Homo sapiens: one gene and its partners. The protein of the gene in region 1 purifies or fractionates together with the protein of each later gene. This does not show direct contact. Each region holds a gene or a part of one and is shown in the gene's direction. Other genes may lie near its edges. The genes, in order: KCNK18, PCNX3, OMA1, ACVR1, PPP3CB, LRRC8A and UGCG.

What was found.
Region 2: the proteins of KCNK18 (region 1) and PCNX3 purify together in Homo sapiens (affinity purification with mass spectrometry; one large-scale study listed by BioGRID and IntAct). This does not show direct contact.
Region 3: the proteins of KCNK18 (region 1) and OMA1 purify together in Homo sapiens (affinity purification with mass spectrometry; one large-scale study listed by BioGRID and IntAct). This does not show direct contact.
Region 4: the proteins of KCNK18 (region 1) and ACVR1 purify together in Homo sapiens (affinity purification with mass spectrometry; one large-scale study listed by BioGRID and IntAct). This does not show direct contact.
Region 5: the proteins of KCNK18 (region 1) and PPP3CB purify together in Homo sapiens (affinity purification with mass spectrometry; one large-scale study listed by BioGRID and IntAct). This does not show direct contact.
Region 6: the proteins of KCNK18 (region 1) and LRRC8A purify together in Homo sapiens (affinity purification with mass spectrometry; one large-scale study listed by BioGRID and IntAct). This does not show direct contact.
Region 7: the proteins of KCNK18 (region 1) and UGCG purify together in Homo sapiens (affinity purification with mass spectrometry; one large-scale study listed by BioGRID and IntAct). This does not show direct contact.

Annotation. Positions count from the first base shown.
Region 1 is NC_000010.11:117,203,989-117,207,488, forward strand, and holds part of KCNK18 (potassium channel subfamily K member 18), read left to right. Parts: intron 1-3,500. UniProt on the Homo sapiens protein: K(+) channel that conducts outward and inward rectifying currents at depolarized and hyperpolarized membrane potentials, respectively.
Region 2 is NC_000011.10:65,632,776-65,635,357, forward strand, and holds part of PCNX3 (pecanex-like protein 3), read left to right. Parts: intron 1-1,303; coding exon of another isoform or gene 1,304-1,350; coding exon 1,351-1,581; intron 1,582-1,762; coding exon 1,763-1,866; intron 1,867-2,197; coding exon 2,198-2,345; intron 2,346-2,442; coding exon 2,443-2,582.
Region 3 is NC_000001.11:58,529,727-58,533,226, reverse strand, and holds part of OMA1 (metalloendopeptidase OMA1, mitochondrial precursor), read left to right. Parts: intron 1-2,497; coding exon 2,498-2,626; intron 2,627-3,500. UniProt on the Homo sapiens protein: Metalloprotease that is part of the quality control system in the inner membrane of mitochondria. Activated in response to various mitochondrial stress, leading to the proteolytic cleavage of target proteins, such as OPA1, UQCC3 and DELE1.
Region 4 is NC_000002.12:157,778,831-157,782,330, reverse strand, and holds part of ACVR1 (activin receptor type-1 precursor), read left to right. Parts: intron 1-1,730; coding exon 1,731-1,994; intron 1,995-3,500. UniProt on the Homo sapiens protein: Bone morphogenetic protein (BMP) type I receptor that is involved in a wide variety of biological processes, including bone, heart, cartilage, nervous, and reproductive system development and regulation.
Region 5 is NC_000010.11:73,440,525-73,444,024, reverse strand, and holds part of PPP3CB (serine/threonine-protein phosphatase 2B catalytic subunit beta isoform), read left to right. Parts: exon of another isoform or gene 1-236; intron 237-3,500. UniProt on the Homo sapiens protein: Calcium-dependent, calmodulin-stimulated protein phosphatase which plays an essential role in the transduction of intracellular Ca(2+)-mediated signals.
Region 6 is NC_000009.12:128,888,633-128,892,132, forward strand, and holds part of LRRC8A (volume-regulated anion channel subunit LRRC8A), read left to right. Parts: intron 1-3,434; exon of another isoform or gene 3,435-3,500. UniProt on the Homo sapiens protein: Essential component of the volume-regulated anion channel (VRAC, also named VSOAC channel), an anion channel required to maintain a constant cell volume in response to extracellular or intracellular osmotic changes.
Region 7 is NC_000009.12:111,899,814-111,903,313, forward strand, and holds part of UGCG (ceramide glucosyltransferase), read left to right. Parts: intron 1-3,500. UniProt on the Homo sapiens protein: Participates in the initial step of the glucosylceramide-based glycosphingolipid/GSL synthetic pathway at the cytosolic surface of the Golgi.

The DNA of each region.
Region 1 (3,500 bases):
ATTTAGGTTGGTCCAGGTGCCCTGGCTTATGCCTGTAATCCCAGCACTTTGGGAGGATCAGGTGAGAGTTGGAGACCAGTCTGGGAAATACAATGAGACCTCATCTCTACAAAAAATAAAAAAATCAGCTGGGCGTGGTGACGTGCACCTGTAGTCCCTGCTACTCAGGAGGCTGAGGTGGGAGCATCACTTGAGCCCTGGAGGTTGAGACTGCAGTGAGCCATGATCGCGCCACTGCACTCCAGCCTGGGTGACAAGAGTTGGCCTGGATGGCAGAGTCTCAAAAAAAAAAAAAAAAGAAAAAAGAAAAAAACCTCAGATGCATCTGAGGCAGGATTTCTCAACCTCAGCACTATCAGCTTCTTGCATGGGATAATTCTCTGCAGAGGAGGCTCCTGTGCAATGTAGGATGTTGAGCAGCATCTCTGGCCTCCACCCACCAGATGCAATAGCACTTTCCCCACTGTCCCTACCCATTATGACAGCCACAATAGTCTCCAGGCATTGCCAAATTTCCTCTGGGGGGCAAAATTGCCCGCTATTGAGAAATGATCTATTGCAATGGTTGTCAAAATGTGGTCCCTGAGTAACATCGACATCACTGGGGAACTTGATAGAAATGCAAATTAATTCTCAGGAGCCATTCTAGACCTACTGAGCCAGAAACCATGGCTGTGGGACCCAGCAATCTGTAGTTTAGAAAGTTCTCCATGTGATTCTGATGTGTGCTAATGTTTGAGAAGCGTGCCCTGGCTGCATGTCAGAGTCACCTGCAGAGCTTTTGCAAGCTCCCATGTGTGGACCCTGCCCTAGAACAAACAGAATCCCTAGGGACCAGGCCCAGACATCAGTATTTTCCAGGGCCCTCCAGGTGATTCTAGTGGGAGTCCAGGCTGTGAGTCACTGATCTAATGGAAATGCATTAGCTTGGCTTAAATTCCAAGAAGGCAATGCTACTGCCCATTGTACGAGTCAATTAGGACATCATGCCGCCCAGTAATTACAAACAACTGGAAGAGGATGTTGGGGAATGTTCCGCACTGTCCATAATCAATAACGGTGTTTGAAAGTCTCTCTGGTAATACTGCTTCCTGCCCTGCATCTCTGGGTCATCTGAAATGCACCTGGCCTTAATGCTAAGCACAGGATACCTGACAGCTGTGAGGCCGGTCAATCCCGTCATTCCCAACTGGGTCATCCCTCTTGGATTAGAAAGGAAAGTGCATGAGCTGTTAAGTACTCACAGGCCAAGTGCAGTGAACTGATTGTATCAAAATATATGAATGCATTCTAAGAAATAATGAGTTCCATTATGCATTTTGGCATTCAGTAATTAGAATAGTTAATACATTCCCTTTGTGGGGGTTGTGTGCTCTCTGAGACCTGCTTCCTTTAAACTTTTTCAGGAATGTGACATATTGCATATTTTGGATTGCAAAAGTATCTCACCCAGAGGCAGCCAAAAAGGCTTTGTTTATAATCCTGTAAACCCACCTTTGCCAAAGACAGCAGTAGATTCTGGTGGATTCACAGTGCCTGCTCTGTGCTCAAATCCCAGCTCCTTTCAGGCACTCCAATCCAAACCATCCTCCTGTCCTGCTGAGATTTCTGCCAGTCCCTACAGGTCTCTCCTCTCAGCTCCCACCTCAGCCAAAGCCCCCTTTATCTCTCACCTGGGCAGGAAGCATAGCATCCCCACTCATTGTCCTGCGTCTATCTGAAGCCCTACAATTTACTGTCTGTGATGCAGTCAGGATGATTTTTTCAAGATGCAAACCAAGTCAGAAGTGGTGGCTCACTCCTGTAAGCCCAGCACTTTGGGGGGCTGAGGTGGGCAGATCACTTGAGGTCAGGGGTTCGAGGCCAGCCTGGCCAACATGGTGAAACCTTGTCTCTACTAAAAATACAAAAATTAACCAGGCATGGTGGTGGGTGCCTGTAGTCCCAGCTACTCAGGAGGCTGAGGCAAGAGAATCTCTTGAACCCAGGAGGTGGAGGTTGCAGTAAGCCAAGGTCGTGCACGCCTCTTCACTCCAGCCTGGGCAACAGAGCAAGATCTCATCTTAAAAAAAAAAGATACAAACCTGATTTTATTAGTTTCTTGTGGCTGCTGTAATAAATTCCCACAAACTCAGTGGCTTGAAGCAATAGAAATTTATTCTGTCACAATCTGGAGGCCAGAAATTCGAAATCAGTTTTACTGATTTCAAAAATGAAGGTGTTGGCAGAGCCATACTCCCTCTAAGGCTCTAGGAGAGGACCCTTCCTTGCCTCTTCCTTGGCAGCTTCTGGTGGCTGCCAGCATCCCCTGGCTCGTGGCCACATCACTCTTGTCTCTGCCTCTGAGGTCATATTACCTCCTCTTCTCTGTGTAAAATATCTTGCTCAGCCTCTCCCTTATCAGGACACTTGTAATGGTACCTAGGGCCACACACACAATCCAGGATAACTTCCTCATCTTGAGATCCTTAATCACATCGACAAAGACCCACTTACCAAATAAGGTAGCATTGACAGATTCTAGGAGTTAGGACTTGGCTATATTTGGGGGCTGTCATTTTTCAGCCTTCCACACTGATCAAGGCACTCCCCCATCTGCCATGGAAGCCCTTAGATGCTGCCCACCTCCCGGCCTCCCCTTGCTCCCCTCCCCTACCTCCCTGCACACTAGACACACTGGCCTTCTCTTGGTTCCTTAAAGCTGGGTGACAGCTACACTCAGGGTGACACCTTGGTGAAAAGTTAGAAAACCATATCCCTCACTAGGCAGACACAGCCCAGTGCCCCGAGCCCTGAGCTCCAAGCTTGGTAAGTGCACGGAGGCTAGGTTTCAGCTCCCAGTCACCCCCTTGGTATATGTGCAGTACACAAGTTGCCCCACTGTCACTGTATGGATAACCCTTTGTTGAACCCGCCATAGGGTCTTTGCACAGGCTGCTTCCTCTCTCTTCACCTGGCTAGTTTGTGACCCCTTCCCAACATCAGCTCAAAAATCCCCTCACAGGAAAAATCTTTCCTGGGCCCAAATCCAGGATGGGTGCCTTTGTTTGTTTTTGTTGAGACAGAGTCTCGCTCCGTTGCCCAGGCTGGAGTACAGTAGCACGATCTCAGCTCACTGCAACCTCCGCCCCCTGGGTTCAAGTGATTCTCATGCCTCAGCCTCCCAAGTAGCTGGGATTACAGGTATGCGCCATCACACCTGGCCAATTTTTGTATTTTTAGTAGAGACAGGGTTTTGCCACGTTGGCCAGGCTGGTCTTGAACTCCTGACCTCATATGATCTGTCCGCCTTGGCCCCTCAAATTGCTGGGATTACAGGTGTGAGCCATTGCGCATGGCTTAGGATAGGTGCCTTTGTTCTAATCATTCATGGAATGGTCTGCTCTTTCACTTCCTGTTATTGATCTCCATTTGTAATTACATACTCATTAGTGTGGTTTTTAAAATTAATGTCTGCCTCTTTTACCAAACCAGAGGCTCAGAGAGATCGTATCCCATAT
Region 2 (2,582 bases), on another chromosome or scaffold:
ATTCTGTCACCCAGGCTGGAGTGCAGTGGTGCCATCTGGGTTCACTGCAGTGTCCACCTCCCAGGTTCAAGTAATCCTCCTACCTCAGCCTCCCAGGTAGCTGGGACTACAGGCATGCACCACCATGCCTGGCTAATTTTTGTATTTTTTGTAGAGATGGGGTTTCGCCATGTTGTCCAGGCTGGTCTTGAACTCCTGGGTTCAAGCGATCCTCCCACCTCCACCTCCCGAAGTTCTGGGATTACAGGTGTGAGCCACCCTGTCTGGCTGAAGCTTTTCTTTTCTGGGTCTTTTTAGCAGCTCTGGTGGTGCCTGGATTGTAGAGGCGAGCTATGGGCAAGAAAGTCAGTCTGGAGCGGGTCTGCCCTGGCAAAGGGCCTGCCCCATTAGCTCCATCTTAGGGTGGCACATGGAATCCCCATCACCTCACTGGCTGCCCTGCCGGCCTTAACCCGCCCGTGCATCCTGGCCATGCCAGCTACCTGTCTTCCAAAGCTCCTGTACTTTTGCCCAACAGGGCCTTTTAACAAGAGGTCCAGGAGCCCCCAGCTTTGGGTACCACATGTGCCCGTGGCTTTTTTCTGAGGCGAGGCCTGATGGCTGTCATGCTTCAGCTGCCTAAAGGGACCTGTGACCCAGGCACTCTGAGGCAGGCCCACTACTTCAGCCTGCCCTTCCGGCCCCGAGATCTGGATCCCACAATGTCATGATGGGGAAGGTCCGGGGTTCAGGCGGCAGTTCAGTCTGTTCTGCCCCACTCGCTCCCCGCCCCCTGCCCATGTGACATCTGGATGCTCCCGCGCTCGGGGTTATGTTTGTGCAGGAACACCAGCTCCTGCTGCTACCTGGCCCACGTGCTGCACAGGCACTGAAGGTTCACCTGAGGGCCACACCATAGTGTCGGGGCCAGCCAGAGGCGGGTGGGGGACAGGGTTCAGGGCAGGTGGGGCCAGCTCCACCTTGATGACTTGGAAGCTGAGGTGGTAAATGTTGAGTGTGATGATCTTGTTCTCGTTGGGGGCTGCCATTTGTTTGAGCCTCAATTTCTCATACAAACGGGGCATATTCTAGGGCAGAGGCAGGCAGATGCTGCTTGTGAGTGCTAGCCCCAGCACAGGACTTCCTGCTCTGTAAGTGGGTGCTTCCTGGCGGCTTTGTCACTCCTCCCTGGTCTAGGGGAAGGAGCCAACTTGCTTGGTTGCTCTTGAGAGCTGAGATGGCTCTAGGAGCGGGGCATCCCAGAAAGCGGACTTCAGCTCAGTCTTGGGGAGGAGCCTCTGAACCTCCATGCTTTCTCCTCCAGTGGCCAGGGCCGGGACCCCGGCCTGACGCCTGCCCCTCCTCTCCCAGAGCATCATCTACTACGTGAGCCGCTCACCAAAGCTGGAGGTGTGGCTCAGCCATGAGGGCATCACGGCAGCCCTGAGGCCTGTGCGGGTGCCCGGCTATGCCGACTCGGATCCCACCTTCTCGCTGAGTGTGGATGAGGACTATGACCTCCGCCTGTCTGGCCTCTCGCTGCCCTCCTTTTGTGCTGTGCACCTCGAGTGGATCCAGTACTGCGCCTCCCGGCGCAGCCAGGTCAGGCTCCACTACCTGAGGCTGCCACCTGGGGCTGTGGGACCTGGGCTTCCCTGCTCCCCTTCTCCCCATTTGGTTTCCTCTCACTCTGAGCCTCCCTTAGCCTGAGCCCCAGCCCCCACTCCAAGGTCCCTGTCCCAGGTCTGAGCTGGGCTCTGGGATGGGGGTCCTTATGCCACAGCCCGTGGACCAGGATTGGAACTCCCCGCTGGTCACGCTGTGTTTTGGCCTGTGTGTGCTGGGCCGCCGGGCCCTGGGGACAGCCTCTCACAGCATGTCTGCAAGGTGAGTGCTCGGGTGTCCCGCGGGGCCTACTGCCGTCCCCACCCCACCTCTTCCACGAAGAGCACTGTGGTCTCTGGCCACAGTGGCCACAGAAACTGCAGTGGCCCTTCCTGTTGGGGTACCTCTTCTCCCACGGGCAGGGCACTTCCTGGTCATGACCTTGCCTGCTCCTCAGTGCTCTGTGAGAGACATGGGCAGAGATTGGCCTCTTTGTCAAGATGGGGAAACTGAGGCTCAGCGTGAGGAAAGGCCTCTGCTTGGATCACTCTGAAGCCTTACCCCTGGGTCCTCGACACCCCTCTCTCCCCTCCCTGTTTTTCCTCCCACTTAGCCTGGAGCCCTTCCTCTACGGCCTGCACGCCCTGTTCAAGGGGGATTTTCGCATCACCTCCCCACGTGACGAGTGGGTCTTTGCCGACATGGACCTGCTTCACCGCGTTGTGGCGCCTGGGGTTCGCATGGCCCTCAAGCTTCACCAGGTTGGGGAGGGGTGTGCCCAGCAGCATGGGCAGGTGGGGGATGAAGCCTCTCTCCAGGGCAGGGGCCACTGACCCCTGTTCCCGTCTTCTCTACCAGGACCACTTCACGTCCCCAGATGAATATGAGGAGCCAGCAGCCCTATACGATGCCATTGCGGCCAACGAGGAGCGGCTGGTCATCTCACATGAGGGTGACCCAGCATGGCGCAGCGCCATCCTCAGCAACACGCCCTCCCT
Region 3 (3,500 bases), on another chromosome or scaffold:
ATCATAGAATTCAAGTTGATGTATGCTCCTGTGAATACATGTCTGTTCATCTTGATATAAGTCCAGGAAAAATAACACATCTGTTTCACACATTTTTTAAATTGTTATTCATTTAAAAATATAAATGGCTCTTTTGTCTACATTAGAGAAAGTATTTTTTAAATTGTAAACGCAAAGGTACATAGTGAAGTGACTGAAATGCTAAATCAGAAATACAAGTAACATTAACTTCAAATGGAAATGATAATGATTCTAATCCTTCTAAGAGTAATCTCAAATTCTACCTGTTCCTTAGACTATTAATAAGATGAGATGGGCTAAATTGTTTTTCTGAAACACTGAAAGTAATTATCTCCTTGATTTCTTTTGAGTTACAGGAAGATTTTAAAAACATTTTTCTTGACTGGGTGCAGTGGCTTATACCTGTAATCCCAGCACTTTGAGAGGCTGAGGCAGGAGTATTGCTTGAGCCCAGGAGTTTGAGACTGGCCTCGGCAACATAGACTCAGTCTGTACAGAAAAATTTTAAAAATTAGCTGAGCATGGTGGCTCACACCTGTAGTTCCAGCTGTTCTGGAGCCTGAGGCAGGAGGATTGCTTGAGCCTGGGAGATCAAGGCTACAGTGAGCCATGATCGCACCACTGCACTCTAGCCTGGGTGACAGAGTGAGACACTGTCTCAAACAAAAAAGTAAGAAAAAAAATCTTTTTTTCTTAAACAAATATACACAAGAATACGTCTAAGCAGTGTTATTATATGCACTCTAATATCTTTCAAGTAATGGCTTCACAACTGCAAAATCAGTTTTGGCCATTTTAGCATTTGAAAGGTGTTACTATTCAGTACATTTGTTTTTTAGGCATCTAGTTCAGTGCCTTATATTCAGTGTATTGTCATCTCTATCAGTGCAAGAACAGTAGTAGATGAGGTGTAAAAAGCAAACAGCAGCCTTAAAAATAGAACATAGTTATTAATATGTTTTTGCAGAGATCTTAAACATTGTCAGCACAATATTTTCTCTTTTGGGAGTCTCAGTTTTGATTTTATCTAGGCGTTTATGTTTTCTTTATTCTACAAATACAGGTTTTTGTGTGTGTATTTCCAGTTTTCTAAGACTGTATAATAGCAATTATATTCTTTAATAACAAGGGCTTTCTCTTCTATAACAACTTCCTTATTTTGAGTTTCACTTTTTCATGTTAAAATAATTTCATAATTGGGCTGGGCACAGTGGCTCACCCCTGTAATCCCAGCACTTTGGGAGGCTGAGGTGGGTGGATCATGAGGTCAGGAGTTCAAGACCAGCCTGGCCAACATGGTGAAACTCCATCTCTGCTAAAAATACAAAAAATAGCTGAGCATGGTGGTGGGTACCTGTAATCACAGGTACTCGGGAGGCTGAGGCAGGAGAAACATTTGAACCTGGAGGCGGAGGTTGCAGTGAGTCGAGACCTCGCCACTGCACTCCAGCTTGGGCAACAGGGCAAGACTCTGTCTCAAAAAAAAAAAGATAAATCCATAATTGTTTTTCAAAACACACATTTGTGTTTTGAGGCAAAGTAATGAGGCAAATATAAGGAGGTAAAGTATGTTTTGTGAGGGTACAATATTTGTTAAGGGACAATATTCTAAGTCAGTTTTTAGTTTTCAGTCATTTTTCATACATTCAAGTAATGACTGCTATTTTATCAGTTTCAGCATTACAACATTAACATTTACTAATCACCTTTAATGGCAAACCATGAACAATCTAGTTCATTAAACTTAGATATTACTACTCAAAACAACTATTTTATGAAAAATCTTTTTTGGTAACTGATATAAGTAAATACAAAAATTCATAGAACCTGATTCTTTCATGATAAATACTAGACTTACAAATTTACAAACTTGTATAAATGAATAATATTTCATATATTAGGTCTTGAAGATCAGAATACTTTTATTTAAAATAAACTTCCAGTCTTTTTCTGAATTTTTTCTTGTTTTAAGTGCTTCATATGTTAGGTAGTGTTTAGTCTTTATCCAAAAATATTAGTAAAATAAAACATTTACTTGATTTTTTAAAATGATGCAACTATATTAAAAACTAAAACTGACCGGGTTTGATTTCTGGTCCTTTTAGTAATAGCTGTGCAAATCTGGGCAACTCTTAACCTCTCTCTATCTCAGTTTCATTATCTATAAATGTAGGGATAATTGTAGCTATTTCACAAGATTATTATGCCTGTTAATATAAGAAATTGTAGGTTTATATCCTCTGACTAATAGTAAGTGGCTTAGTAGATACTAGTTAAATGAATGAATAGGTATATAAGTAGATAAACCAAGGAAGGGAAAAACAGACCCGGAAAGAATAAGCAAAAGAAGAAAAAGAGAACTCTCAGTCTTAGGTGGAGAAGGTCAGGTAATTGTAACACATGATGAACTAGAAAATGTAAGCATATACTGTCTCAATGTATAAAATGTAGTTTTTATTATTTTGATTATTCTTAGGCAGAAAAGGCTGGCATGGTTCATTTGTTGGATTTCCTAGGTATGATTTTCCTCACAATGATTTGGGCCATTTGTCCTCGAGATAGCTTGGCACTTTTGTGCCAGTGGATACAGTCTAAATTGCAGGAGGTAAGTCTGAGACAATAACTTGAATTGATCATAGCCTCTGGTGAAGATATTTTAATACTACTGTAAAGCAGCAAATCCAGAGATGTTTTTACATTTTACTATGAAATATGGGTACGAATTTTTAGTGTCTTATGTTTTCTCGTTTTTAGGGGATATTCTTATATATGAATATTTAAATTAAGGAATACTACATCTCTCAAATGATGGGTATGGAGAGTTAGAAGGGCTTGGCAACTTTTGGCTAATAAAATTTTTGAAAATATATTTATTGGTTTTACAGAGAGAAAACCCAGCCACTGACCCTTCCTTTCGTAGTAACTGAATGACTCCCAAATTCAGCTGTCCCTTGGTATACAGGACTTCTTGTGGATACCAAAATCTGAGTATGCTCAAGTCCTTGATAAAAAATGGCATGGTATTGGCCGGGCGCCGTGGCTCATGCCTGTAATCTCAGCACTTTGGGAGGCCAAGGTGGGTGGATCACGAAGTCAGGAGATTGAGACCATCCTGGCTAACGTGGTGAAACCCTGTCTCTACTAAAAATACAAAAAAATTAGCCTGGCGTTGTGGCGGGCGCCTGTAGTCTCAGCTACTTGGGAGGCTGAGGCAGGAGAATGGCGTGAACCCAGGAGGCAGAGCTTGCTGTGAGCCGAGATTGCGCCACTGCACTCCAGCCTGGGCGACAGAGTGAGACTACATCTCAAAAAAAAATAAAAATAAAAATAAAAGCATGGTGTTTGCATGTAACTATGCACATCCTCTCATATACTTTAAATCATCTCTAGATTACTTGTAATTCAATGTAAATGCTATGTAAATAGTTATTTTACTATATATATTTTTAAGTTGTAGTTTTTTAAATTGTTTTTTCGTA
Region 4 (3,500 bases), on another chromosome or scaffold:
GTCTTTGCTCTTGGATGAGCCCCTTGTGGTTTTCAAAGGAACTAGCAAGTCAATTATAAATAGAAGGCTGTGTCTGTGTGTCTGCATGCACTTACTCTGTGGGACGAGGCACCCACATTACAGTGGGCAGTGAACTATTTTTCCACTTCTTTGAAGAGGGAAGAAGAAAGATTAAGAATGCTTTTCTCTTTTTGAGATAACCCACATCTCTACACACACCCACACAAATCTGTGTAAATGAACTTGACATTTTCAAAGACCTTACCTTAAGGTCTCCTCTGGAAAGCACAGCCACCCAACCTGTTATTTTAAGAAAGAAGCATTTATCTCCTAGACCCACTACTGAGGGTTCAGGGATTAGAAGGCAGCCTCTATGTGCCATAGACCTTTGGAGGGAGCTCTGAAAGCTGAATTTCCTAATATGAACAGTGCTTCGGCAAAAGTGGCCTCAGCTAACTAATCAGTGGCCTCTAGGACTTGGCTGTTTACATTTTATCCTCTGTTTCCTTCCCCACTAGTAGAAACTGTGGGACCAGCAAGTCTAAACTAATCATACTGACAAGGGAAGAGAAAAGAGTAATGTGAAAATGCAGATGCAAATAAGTATTCTCAGAAAGAGACAATTAAGCAGAGTGATTAGATGTGCTTCCCTGATCATCCGTTTCTGCCTCTTTCCATTGCACCTTGAACTCCCTAGGTGTGTATTCTTCCAGTGGTCCCACCTGTCACCTTACTGTTCAAACATTATTCGGTTCTCTTGGTCTCCTTGTGCCCTCATTCTCCATATTTGGCACCATTTTTTTCCTGCCAGCCAAAAATTCTTAAGCAGGTGTTAATTCCCACTATAATCTATGTAAACTTTAGTGTTACCACTAGTGAAAAAGTTAGTCTAGGCATCTAGCTGGAAATATTGGTACCATGGATTGTAATTATAGATTGTACAGCCTTGCAAACTCTTATTATATTACAGGTTGAACATCTCAAATCCCAAAACCTGATACTTGAACTGCTCTGGAATCCAAACCTTTTTTAGCATTGACCCAATGCTCAATAGAAATGCTCATTGGAGCATTTTGAATTCTGGATTTTTGGATTTGAGATGCTCAGCCAGGATAAATACAACTATTCCCCAATCCAGAAAAATTTTTAAATTTGAAACTTTTCTGGTCTCAAACATTTCGAGTAAGGGATACTCAGTTTGTAGTATATTTCTGCCATGTACCTGCAAGAATGTCAGCATTCCTTGTTTTACGAGTTGATGGGGATTTGTACAGAGCTAGCAAAAATTAGTATTAATAGCTGCCATATATTTAGGAGCTTTTTTTTTGGAATAGAATAAAGGTGATAAACATTATGTTCCAGTAAAACATTTTATTTTGATGCAGTAATTGGGATCTTAGAGCCAATCACGCTGAAGGTTATATGAACACCACAGGGGGAGAAGCTCATTTTCAGAAGTCTGTGGACAGATGATAGCCAGTCTTTGTCCTAATATGATCTAAAAGGGTGCACAGCTTATATAAATGAATCGCTATGTTGAGAGGCAATTATTATTTGTTGGTTGGTTAGGTGACAAGGTGACAGAATGTGGACCTCATGGTTGATGGTGATGCTTAGCTTGACTTTCTGTTGATAGAGGTGTTTGGAATGGTCATTCCCTCAATGAAGGTGAAACTCATACGGTAATTCCTCTTTTTTTTTTTTTTCCCCTTCCTTTCTCTCCTTTGCAGATGAGAAGCCCAAGGTCAACCCCAAACTCTACATGTGTGTGTGTGAAGGTCTCTCCTGCGGTAATGAGGACCACTGTGAAGGCCAGCAGTGCTTTTCCTCACTGAGCATCAACGATGGCTTCCACGTCTACCAGAAAGGCTGCTTCCAGGTTTATGAGCAGGGAAAGATGACCTGTAAGACCCCGCCGTCCCCTGGCCAAGCCGTGGAGTGCTGCCAAGGGGACTGGTGTAACAGGAACATCACGGCCCAGCTGCCCACTAAAGGTTCCCATGGACTTTTCTATTTCTAGATCAAGGGGTTTTGTTAGTGTTGTCCTGGGTCCGTGTGGGTTAAAGATCTAAGTAGCTATGAGGCATTCCACCTACATTTTGAATCAGAGGCGAAGAGCTACAAGGAAGGTCACCCTGGGTGAAGAAGAGAAAGGAACAGCCTTTTGGCATCTAAAAGAAGGATGGGCATTTTGGGGAATGTAAGCAAGGTGATGTCCATCTTGGGGACAGCTTAGCTGACCAGTTAGCTTTCTCTTGGTTGCTGTGACTCAGGTGAACAGCTCCCAATACCTTTTTATGTTACTGACCCATGATGTCATTCATAATTTCTGAAACAATTCTGCTAGTAAATACTCATCTCTGTGTCAAGTGTGTAGGGAGGAAAACAGAACGGACTGGTGACTGAGTGGAATGCCTTTCCTGTTTTATGAGGAAGGAGATAAAAGAAGGCTCACTGACCTCTTCTCCCATATCTGATGCCCAGTGACCCTATCACTGAAATTTGAAGCAGGATGAGATTTCGCACAAACCCTGTAGTTTTTGTGGAATCTTCTCTCTACCATCAGTACAGATTGCATATGCTAAGGAAACCAGTCCAGCTCTGAAACTGTTTCCCTATTAAATGAGCCCTAAATTGCAATCTTAAAGTCTCTGCAAACATTTATGTAAACTCATTCCAAGCCAAATTTATTCTCTTACCATATAGTACATTTTTAATAGGTTTAGTTATTTAATTTTGCACTCAGAAAAAAGAAACAAACCAAAAAGTGGAGGAGAGGTAACGACGAGCATCCAAAACTAGAAATGTCAGCCAGCAAGAAAGGAGGCAGAAGAACAAAAAAGCTGATGCAAGATCATGTTCTAGTAATTTTGAAGTTATGGTGATGACTTTAAGGCATATGGAAAAGGTTAAATTCTGACAAGCAAATAGGATTGAATAATCAAAGAGGGTTTTAAAGGAGATCAAGTATTTACATGGTTAAAACTAAAAGGGTCCTTGATGGAATAAAATTTACTGTTATACTTTGTGAGTTAAATTTTTATTAATTGGGTGGATGGACATAAACAAATGTCTGAATTCATACAAACATTATTATACCAACTGTGAAGTTTCTAATCTGCAGATCACTCTGCTAGACCTTGAGTTTTAATAGAAGATTTTTTTTTTTGAATTTAAGGACATTCTAATCTGATTAGCGTGGCCACAGTATTTATAATTCAGCGTTGCATTTTGTTAGTTTTACACTTTCTCATGCAAATGACATATGCCATGGAGTATGATGTATGCCAAGCTGTTGATTAGTTGGGCTTGGAAAGTTAAACAAATACGTAAAGGAAGTTAAGCTTGTGATTGGATGGCTGAAGAGACCAGTAATATGGAAATGGGTAAGGCCTCTGTAGGGAAGAACAGGGCCTGATGACATAATGTCATGGAGAGGTCTGAACCCAGGGAGTGAATCAGTGAATGAATGTCTGAATAAGCGAGTAAATGAAGAGAGG
Region 5 (3,500 bases), about 44 Mb from region 1:
AATTACTCCATCAGACACTTGTCTGTCTTGCAATGTAGAAGCAGCTTTGTAGCACCTTGTTTTGAGGTTTGCTGCATTTGTTGCTGCACTTTGTGCATTCTGAACATGAATGTAACATTAGATATTAAGTCATTGTTATAAGGGGTTGAATTTAAATCCTGTAAGTCAAAATTGAAAGGGTGTTATTAAGTGTGCCTTTATTTTGCATGAAAATAAAAAGAATTATACGTAAAGCATTCCTGTAATCTGGCTCATTGAATATTTTATACTTAAAAAACTTTTTTTGGCGTAAATATTTGTGTAAATACTGGGTTAACTTTTTAAAAGCCCATTACAGATTAAATAGAAGAGAGTGATGTGAGTATTAGTGACCATACACAGTAATTCAGTCTAGATTTCTTTTCCTGTGGTTGGAAAGCAAAAATACATGATGTGGAAAAGCCTGAATTTCTTGTAGTCACTTTTGACAGCCCTCTAAGGGTCATTGTCTATTAAAATAGCAACAGATCTGATGTTTTCCTTAGTCATAATTAGGTTTCTTTTTGGTGTTGTAATTAGTGACTTTTTTAGAGGGAAAAAAATAGGCAATTTTAACGTTTTGAATGAATTTACATTTGACTTCACAATTTCATTTCACTTGGTTCCATAATAAGTGCTCTTTTTTTTTCTTTTCTCTCTTCTCTTCTCTTTCTTTTTCTTTCTTTCTTTCTTTCTTTCTTTCTTTCTTTCTTTCTTTCTGTCTTTCTTTCTTTCTTTCTCTCTCTCTCTCTCTCTTTCTCTCTCTCTCTCTGTCTTTCTTTTTTTGTGTGCATGTGTACATGTGTGTGTGTGAGAGAGACAGACAGGGTCTGGTTTCTTGCTGTGTCACCCAGGCTGGAGTGCAGTGCAGCCTCAACCTCCTGGGCTCAAGCAGTCCTCCATTTCAGCCACCCAAGTAGCTAAGACCATAGGCACATGCCACCACAGCCAGCTAATTTTTTTTATTTTTTTTATTTTTTATTTTTTTATATTTTTGTATTGCCCAGGCTGGTCTCAAACTCCTGGGCTCAAGCAATCTTCTGACCTCAGCCTCCCAAAGTGCTGGGATTATAGGCATGAGCCACTATGCCTGGCCAATGATTGCTTTTCAATAAAAAAAATTTTTTTCCTGTAAACAATTTTTACTTGTAGCCTATACATGTTCTATTTTAAATGTCATTGTATTGTTCACTACCACCACTGGTATATCTGAAAAGTACACTGTGTTTTGAAATTATAAATTTTCATTCTGAATGAGGTTTCTTTTTTTGATTTTCTTTAAAAAAAAAAAACAACCTGCTTTGATTTGCTTTACATTCCTTGCCCTCCATTTTTCTTATTATATTGTAAACATTAGAAAAATGAACTAAAAAGAATTTCATGAATGTACATTAAAACAAGATCTTAAACATTTGATAAAACTAGTAAAAATGTTAATAGAAAAGGATGAACTTTAATAGCTTCAAAAATATTATACTCTTCTTTGTTCAGAAAAGAAAAATAAAACCAAAAGGGTATCATACTTAAATAAATCTACAGTATAGTCATCTCTCAGTTATCCTTGGATATAACATTACTTTTATATTGTATCCGCAGCAAACCTTGCTTTCAGATTTCACGATTAGCCCCTGCTAATTACATGCTTTGTTGACTTCTGTTTATTCTTAATTTGTACACGGCTTGAAGCTCATTCCTTCAACTTTGAAACCACCCTCAACTGCAGGGGAGGTTTGAAAGACAGCAGCTTTGCTGGAGGGACTCTCTATTCTCAGCATGGACTAAGTTACTGGAAGGAATTGAGTTTAAGGGGTCTAATTTGGGACCCCTTAAACTAGATAGCTTCTAGTTTTGCTAGCTCTTGATAGTGTGGTTTGGGCATTTGGTCAAAATTATTTTCCTAGCATAAGATAAATCCACTTTGAAACAAATAACAAAGGTCATACAAAAGCTGCATGTTTGTGATTATTTTTTAAAAAGTTATCCTACATTTTAAATTTTAGTAGATAATGTTCCCTGATGTTAGTGTGTATAACTGAGAGTTAGGTATTGCAAAAGGAAAAAATTTTAATTCTAAGACCTCGTGCCTATTTGTCAGAAAATAAAAATTGTCGTTTCAAGAACTTTAAAAGTTAATTTACATGATGTTTCTTGAGTGTTTTTACAAACTGCACAACTCTATTGGAGGTGGATTTTCTGTTCATCTTTATTTTATGTATGTTTTCTTTCTGGGAAATTTGATTGGGAGCTAGCACTGTAATGCTACCCTCACCAGGATCTATATGGGAAATATATGTGGCCAATTCTATGTTAGTAATACCAAATTCCTCTTGGTCATTTATCTTGCATAGTACTGAGGAACACAGTTTGAGATAGCACTATGCTCAAACTTATTAAGGCCATGACAAGATGCCCTATATAACTGAAAACAAATAGAGGAGAAATAGTGCCTTTCAGATAGAGTGTTGCAATTAGCAATCTGGGCTCAAGTGATCTTCCTGCTTCAGCTTCCCGAGTAGCTGGGATTACATATGCACACCACCATGCCCGGCTAATTTTTTAAACTTTTTTTGGGGGGAGATGAGGTCTCTCTATGTGTTGCCCAGGCTGGGCTCAAACGCTCAAGGGATCCTTCCACCTCAGCCATCCGAGAGTGCTGGGGTTATAGGCATGATCTTCCATGTCCTGCCCGATTTGTAATGTAGTTTAACAGTTAAGGAAAATTAACTCTTCCTTTATTCAGTGTTCGTCCTAATTCTTTTGGGTCCCCAATTCACTTTACTGTCTGGTTAAGATCAACATTTTCTAACTTAGTTCACTTTAATACCTTAGATTCATCAGTTTCTTTTACATTAATAATTGCTTTGGATAAAATTATTTCTAAATCATGTTAATTGCTAAAAGATCACTTCAGGAATAATTATTCTAATTGGCCTTATTGCAGAAGAAGCAAAATAGGAGAGACCAGGGCATTACTTTTACAAATATTCTGAGTAATAAGGGGAATGGACAATATTGTAAACCAGTATTGTTGTGTGCTATCTTGAGTCCTGGTCCTCAGTGTGAGCTCTTTATACAGTTCAAACCCAGAAATGAGCGAAAAAAAGAATCTTTGACTATAAAATGTTTGACTAATTATGGTGAAATTCTCTAAATGGACCAGTGACACACTATACCAATAATGTATTTCTTATTTATAATATGACCTATGTGTCTATATCATGAAATAATTAGAATTTATGCCTGTAAGACCTCACTTCTCTTCCTTAATGTCTCTTTAATTGGTAGATGAGTTTGAAAAGATGCTCAGTAGTCTTTTTCTGAGGCAAATTTGAGTTCATGATAAACTCTGTCAGTATAAATGGAATTTTTTAAGGCTATAGATGTTAGTATCTGTAGGTATTTGGAACATCAGTACTAGAATAGAAAGGAAGTTACTGGTAGACAGGAGAAGTCCTTTCAGGTCCCCCACAAAGAACAGAGCC
Region 6 (3,500 bases), on another chromosome or scaffold:
AAGGGTTTGGGCAAGGAGAGCATACAGGCGTGGCAGCCTCGTTTTGCGGGGCTGCGAGAGCGTCTGGCAGGATCGCGCTGGGAGTGAGGTCTGTGCCAGAGCTCCTGACATCTCACCTGTGTTTTTCAGGCTCACTGTCCTGTCGCTTTCCCTCCCCCACGTCACTTCCTCCATTCTTCCCCAGGAGTCTCTTTTCTCTCCCATACACTGCTTGGGAGAGAGCTGCAGAGCTGGCCCCTCCACAGATGGTGCTCAGCGTCTCTGGCTTCTCCTTCCTGCAGTAGCACCTTCATAGTCCGTGGTCATTCTCAGCACCATGTCTCAGTGCTGAGCCACAGGCTGGGATGCTGCACGCATTTGCCCATCTTACCTTCGCCACAGCCTTGCGTGTGAGGTTGCTTTACCATTTTACAGACCAAGCCCCAGAGGGATGAGGTCTCTGGCCCAAAGTTATACAGTGTACATGTGGCAAAGCTAGGACTTGAACCCAGGTTGGTATGGCTTGGCAGCTGGGGCTCTTTCTACTTCACCCTCCATTACCCTCTTTTCTCAGGTTCCCAGGCTTTTGGGGGCCTTCAAAGTCACCTGGAAGCTTGTCTAAAATGCTGTTCCCCTGGGCCCACCACCACAGACCTGCAGAGTCTGCCCTGGAAGGTTGGCCCCAGGAATCTGAACTTTGAAGATGCTTCCCCAGCAGTTGTGAGGCTGGTGGGCTACAAACAATGCTGAGAAACACTGACCGGACGCCATTCTTTCAGCCTTAGTCCCAGTCGTCTACCGCAGAACTCATGCCCTTGGTGTGGAAGCAGGGCTGAGCTCCCCACAGGACTGGGACTGGACAGGTTTTTTTTTTTTTGTTTAATTAATTAATTAATTATTTTGAGATGGAGTGTTGCTCTGTCACCCAGGCTGGAGTGCAGTGGCACAATCTTGCTCACTGCAACCTCCACCTCCCAGGTTCAAGCTATTCTCCTGCCTCAGCCTCCCGAGTAGCTGGGACTACAGGTGCCCGCCACCATGCCCAGCTAATTTTTGTATTTTTAGTAGAGACGGGGTGTCACCATATTGGCCATGGCTGGTCTCGATCTCCTGACCTTGTGATCCACCCACCTTGTTCTCCAAAGTTCCAGGACTACAGCCGTGAGCCACTGCGCCTGGCCAATTTTTTTAATTTAATTTTACTTTTTTGAGATGGAATCCTGCTCTGTTGCCCAGACTGGAGTGCAATGGTGCCATCTTGGCTCATTGCAGCCTCTGCCTCCTGGGTTCAAGTGATTCTCCTGTCTCAGCCTCCCAAGTAGCTGGGATTACAGATGTGCACCACCACGCCTGGCTAATTTTTGTATTTTTAGTAGAGACGGGGTTTCACCTTGTTGGTCAGGCTGGTCTCGAACTCCTGACCTCAGGTGATCCACCCACCTCGGCCTCCCAAAGTGCTGGGATTACAGGTGTGAGCCACCGCACCTGGCCAGACAGTTGTTTTTTAGTGGCTTCATTTTGTGTGTGTGTGTGTGTGTGTGTGTGTGTGTGTGTGTGTGCTGGGAAGGCGAGGGGCTTAACCTTCCCTCCTCAAGGACGTGTGGGGCTGAGGTTTCTAGAAGGGCTTTTACTCCCAGCCACAAATGTTCCCTGCTGTCTTCCAGATGCGTTTCTGTTGCGTCTTGCGTCTTGCAGCAAGTTTGTCTACATCTAAACGTCTCTTGAGGGCTTAAAACCTCAAAATTAAATTGCTTGCTGCAATCTAAGCCTCACGCCTAGAGCAATGTTCCAGTGGAGTAAAAGTGGCTGTAAAATTCCATAGCTTTCACGTGCCACCTGGACGCCGTCAGAGTGCCACTGCCAAACCTGCGCCCTCTGACGGGCAGCATGACAAACGCACTGACCAGCAGCGGGGGCGGTGGGCGGGAATCCTGGCCCTGAAGGGACACCTCGCATCTCCCAGCTGACTCCATGAGTCAGGATCCCTGGGGGTAGCCCCCTTCCATCCCAGAGAGTCGGGTACCAGGCAGCTCACCCTCTGTCAGACCCCCCAGTCCTCCCCCTGGCTCACCTAGGGCTTGGCCAGTGCCCACTCCCCTGGGATCTCAGCAGAAGATGTGTCTGCTGCCTCTCTAGGGTACTGGTGGCCACATTTCATAACCTGTCTAAGAAGGCAGCGCTGGTATTCATAACAGGTTAAGACCTGTAAACCGTGTGTGGCCGTGACTCCATGTGCAAATATGAGCCAACAAACGTTGGCTGGACGTGGCGGTTCCCACCAGTAATCCCAGCACTTTGGGAGGCTGAGGTGGAGGATTGCTTGAGCCCAGGAGTTCCAGACCAGCCTGGGCAACATAGTGACCTGTCTCTACAAAAATAAAAAAAAAATTAGTCCAGGCACAGTGGCTCAGCACTTTGGGAGGCTGAGGCAGGTGGATCACCTGAGGTCAGGAGTTCAAGACCAGCCTGGCCAACATGGTGAAACCCCGTTTCTACTAAAAAATACAAAAATCAGCCGGGTATGGTGACATGCACCTGTAATCCCAGCTACTTGGGAGGCTGAGGCAGGAGAATCACTTGAACCCGGGAGGCGAAGGTTGCAGTGAGCCGAGATTGTGCCACTGCACTTTAGCCTGGTGACAGAGTGAGATCCCGTCTAAAAAAAAAAATTAGCCAGGTGTGGTGGCATGTGCATGTAGTTCCAGCTACTTAGAGGTTGAGACTGGAGGACTGCTTGAACCCAGGAGTTCCAGACCAGCCTGGGCAACATAACAACCTATCTCTACAAAAAATTTTTAAAAATAGCCAGGTGTGGTGGCACATGCCTGTAGTTTCAGCTACTCGGAGGCTGAGGCTGGAGGATCGCTTGAGCCAAGGAGTTCAAAGTTGCAGTGAGTCATGATCGCACCATTGTGCTCCAGCCTCGGCGACAGCGCAAGATCCTGTCTCAAAAAAAATAAAACGGCCTGCCTTCTAGGCCCTTCTGCCCCCAGGGCCCAGACCCAACACTGCCTTCTGGCCCTAAACCCAGGGCTAGGCTCCCTTCCAGAGCTTCCTTATAGCAGTACCCGTGAGACCAGAGGCATCTGAGTATGGCCTGATGGGGTTCCCTGTAGAGCCCTGGTTTCCATGTACCCCCTAAGGAAAAGAGTATCTTGTCTCAAGAAGTATCTTCAAGGGCCTGGGTCCCAGGTGGGTCCGGGAGGCCTGCTTGTCTTTGAGGCAGGTTGGCACAATGGAAAGTCGGGCTTGGGGTGCATCTTCCCAGCTCTTCCTAGCTGTGTGGCCTTGGGCAGGTTACCAAACTTCTCTGGGCCTCCGACATCACACCCATAAAAGGACTGATTTAAACTCTACCATAATAATAACAGCAGTGAACGTTCCAGAGCCTTACTGTATGGCAGGCACTAGTCCAAAAGCTTTATATGGACTGTCTCCTTCTGTCCTCATCACAGCCCTCCAAGCAATAGACTTGTCAACCCATTTTACAGATGAGGAAACCAGAGCCCAGCGAGGTGAAG
Region 7 (3,500 bases), on another chromosome or scaffold:
CTTCTAAATATTTAGAGACTTGTCCAGAATTACTTATCAGATGATTATTTGATTATTCCACTGTTTTGAAATATTTTTATTATAAACTAAATTCTGCTTTATACTTGGGTATGTTTCAAAGCTTCTATTGCCCTTTCTTAACCTATTTTAGATGGCAGATGTTTGTAGGATTTCTGCCAACAATGTCAAAGGTAACATTCAGATTAGAGACATTTCAAATTCAAGAGTCTTATTGTTGAGATTGAAGATTTCCTAAAAATAACTAAAGAGTATAGCCTTGGCAAGTTAAATAGCCTTTATGGGTTAATTTTTTTTTTTTTTTTTAATGGTAAGTGCTAGTGTGGCTTGATAGGTTGGGGCCTAAGGTGAAATTGTATAAAAGCCTAGACCTGATGGTAGTGTTTCTCTTCTAGCCCTTGGGAGCCACGTTGCTGCGTGATGAAGTGATCTAAGCAGAAACCTTGCTTCATGCTCTCTTCCCTATCCCATCCACCTCATATTATTATTATTTCCCTGTGTACATAAGGTCCTAATGTTTATCATCAGGCTTTATCTTTCGACTGGAGGTGCTAGGCTAGTGTGGAAATAATTTATGTGTCCTTAAATATTAGCTACCCTCAAGTAAAACAGAGGTCCTTTTTTACCTGGAGGTGTATATGTATATGTGTGTGTGTGTGTGTGTGTGTATTCTTTCTTTGATACAGGGTCTTGCTCTGTTGCTTAGGCTGGAGTGCAATGGCACGATCTTGGCTGACTGCAACCACCGCATCCCAGGCTGAAATGATTCTCCTGCTTCAGCTTCCTAAGTAGCTCCCAAGTAGCTGGGACTACAGGCATGCCTGGCTAATTTTTGTGCTTTTTGTAGAGACAGGGTTCTGCCATGTTTCCCAGGCTGGTCTTGAACTCCTGGACTTAAGTGATCTACCTGTCTTGGCTCCCAAAGTGCTGGGATTACAGGTGTGAGCCATCATGCCTGGCCCCCTGGAGATTTTTTAAGTTTTTTTTAAAGTTAATTCTGCTTTCTACAAACGTATTTCCTTTATTTTGTTTATTGTTATTTTTTTGAGACAGTCCTCTCTGTTGCCCAGGCTGGAATGCAGTGGCTCGATCACGGCTTCACATCCCAGGCTCGAGCAATTCTCCCACCTCAGCCTCCCAAGTAGCTGGGACTACCGGTGCATGCCATCACGCCCAGCTAATTTTTGTCACCCAGGCTGGTCTCAAACTCCTGGGCTCAAGTGATCCCCCCACCTTGGCCTCCTGAAGTTCTGGGATTACGGGCGTGAGCCACTGCGCCCAACCCAAATATGCTATCTCTAATGTACAGCAACTTCAATACCTGATGCACAGTTTTTGAATGGAATTTGCATACTCATTGTGTCAGGATAACTGCGATAAACTACCCGTCAAAAACTGGTTATGTTTTTCATGTAAATTTTAGCATTTGGGATATTATTTTTAGTTAGTACGATCTTTGCCTTAAATTCATGAATACTTGGTGTTCCAAGCCTTAGTGGAATGTAAATTGAGAACGTCTTTTTTGGGTTTAGTCCTGCCAATGCCCTTGGACTGTGGTCAAACGTTCATCAGTCAGGATCATTGCTACAGGGCTACTTTCAGGGAAATGAATAAGGCAGTCCAGCAATTCAGCCCCTTTAACCTGAGCCTGGGAAGATACGGAATTAGACTATAGTGTGATAGCTTTAAAGAACAAAGTGAGGGGCAGTGTGGGGAGGGAGAGCATCAAGAAGAATAGTTAATAGATACTGGGCTTAATACCTCGGTGATGGGATGACCTGGGCAGCAAACCACCATGGCACATGTTTACCTACGTAACAAACCTGCACATCCTGCACATGTACCCCTGAACTTAAAAGTTGAAGAAAAGAAAAAGAGCAAAGTGGAAATTGCAAGATTTTAGTATTCAGTGATGGTTCTATTGATTCATTATCCCTGCCTTTCTCTCTGACATTAGTTAGTTCAGCACACCTTCATATCTATCCTAGATGTTGAAGCTATGTCTACTCGCTGGTATCTCTAGCTGCAGCCTTGTGCCCCCTCGATTTTATATTTCTTATTGTAGCCTTTATCCTTCTGGATTACTAATCTTGGATCACAGTAGCTTAAAATCTTACCATGAATCCTCATTGCCTCCGGGTTACAGTTCAAACTCCTTAATGAGACAAGCACAGCTCTGTAGGAGCTGAACCAGCAACGTTGTATTACTGGCATTTCCCCAAATGTACAATGTGCTTTCTTTGGAATTGTCTTTACTTTCTTTCTTTTTTCTTTCTCTTCCTTCTTTCCTTCCAAAAATCTTGCTTAATTAACTCCTACTCGTTCAAGTCATTTTAGACTTTAGTTCCTTATTGGGTTAGGTGCCCCTTATGGCACCCAGCCATCTCCTATTTGTTTTCTATGGTGGTGGAATCTTCTACATTCTATAGTGTAGTAAGCCCATTGTCCAGTGGGCAGAGTTTGTGTTTTCCTATAGAGCTAACTCACTATTGGTTATTTTACCTTCTGTGAGAGAATTTGTGTTAGCAAGGTTAAGCTTGCACAAGAAGGTGTGCTTTATATTGCTTATGAAGCCCATTTTGAAGCAATACCATTTTTGAAATAAGTGATACAGGTAGTAAATTGGTCATGATATACTGATTATAAACAAACAGTAATATAGTCATGAGTGATAACAATAACAAAGGTCATTAGTCACTGGAAATTGCTGGCATGGACTATGTGAAGTTAGGGACTTGCTGATATAGCAGTGAACCTAATTTTACACGAAATACTAACAAGCTTTGTGACTTGGAGCAGGGAAGATAAATTCCTAGAGTCAGATAAATTGGTTCAGCAGAACCACACAGCGGAATTATAAAAACAACACATTCTGGGGTTGTTAAGCAAGGTGAACTTTTGCCCTTGTGGAATTCATATTCTTCCTTAGAAACCTAGAGTGAAATTCTCTCTTTTTTTTTTTTTGAGACAGAGTCTCATTCTGTTGCCCAGGCTGGATGGCAGTGGTGCGATCTCGGCTTACTGCAACCTCCGCCTTCTGGGTTTGAGTGATTCTTGTGCCTCAGCCTCCCAAGCAGCTGAGACTACAAGCACGTGCCACCACACCCCGCTAATTTTTGTACTTTCAGTAGAGGTGGGGTTTCATGATGTTGGCCAGTCTGGTCTTGAACTCCTGGCCTCAAGTGATTCCCCCATCTCAGCCCAGCAAAGTGCTGGGATTACAGGCATGAGCCACTGTACCCAGCCGAGTGAAATTCTTGTGCCTCACTTGTGAGGAGCTGTATTAAGGTTGCTGCAGAGGCTGCTTCCCGCCATCTGAAGGGGAAGGAGCCCACCCTCCTTGTTTAACCTTTACCTGTCTCCAGTGGGTTTCCCTGCATCCCAGGCTTCCCTCTTGCAAAAGCCAAATTTGAAAACAGAACTGTAAAAGAAGTTATTTAAAAATGAGACAGACAGGGCGTGGTGGCTCACGCCTGTAATCC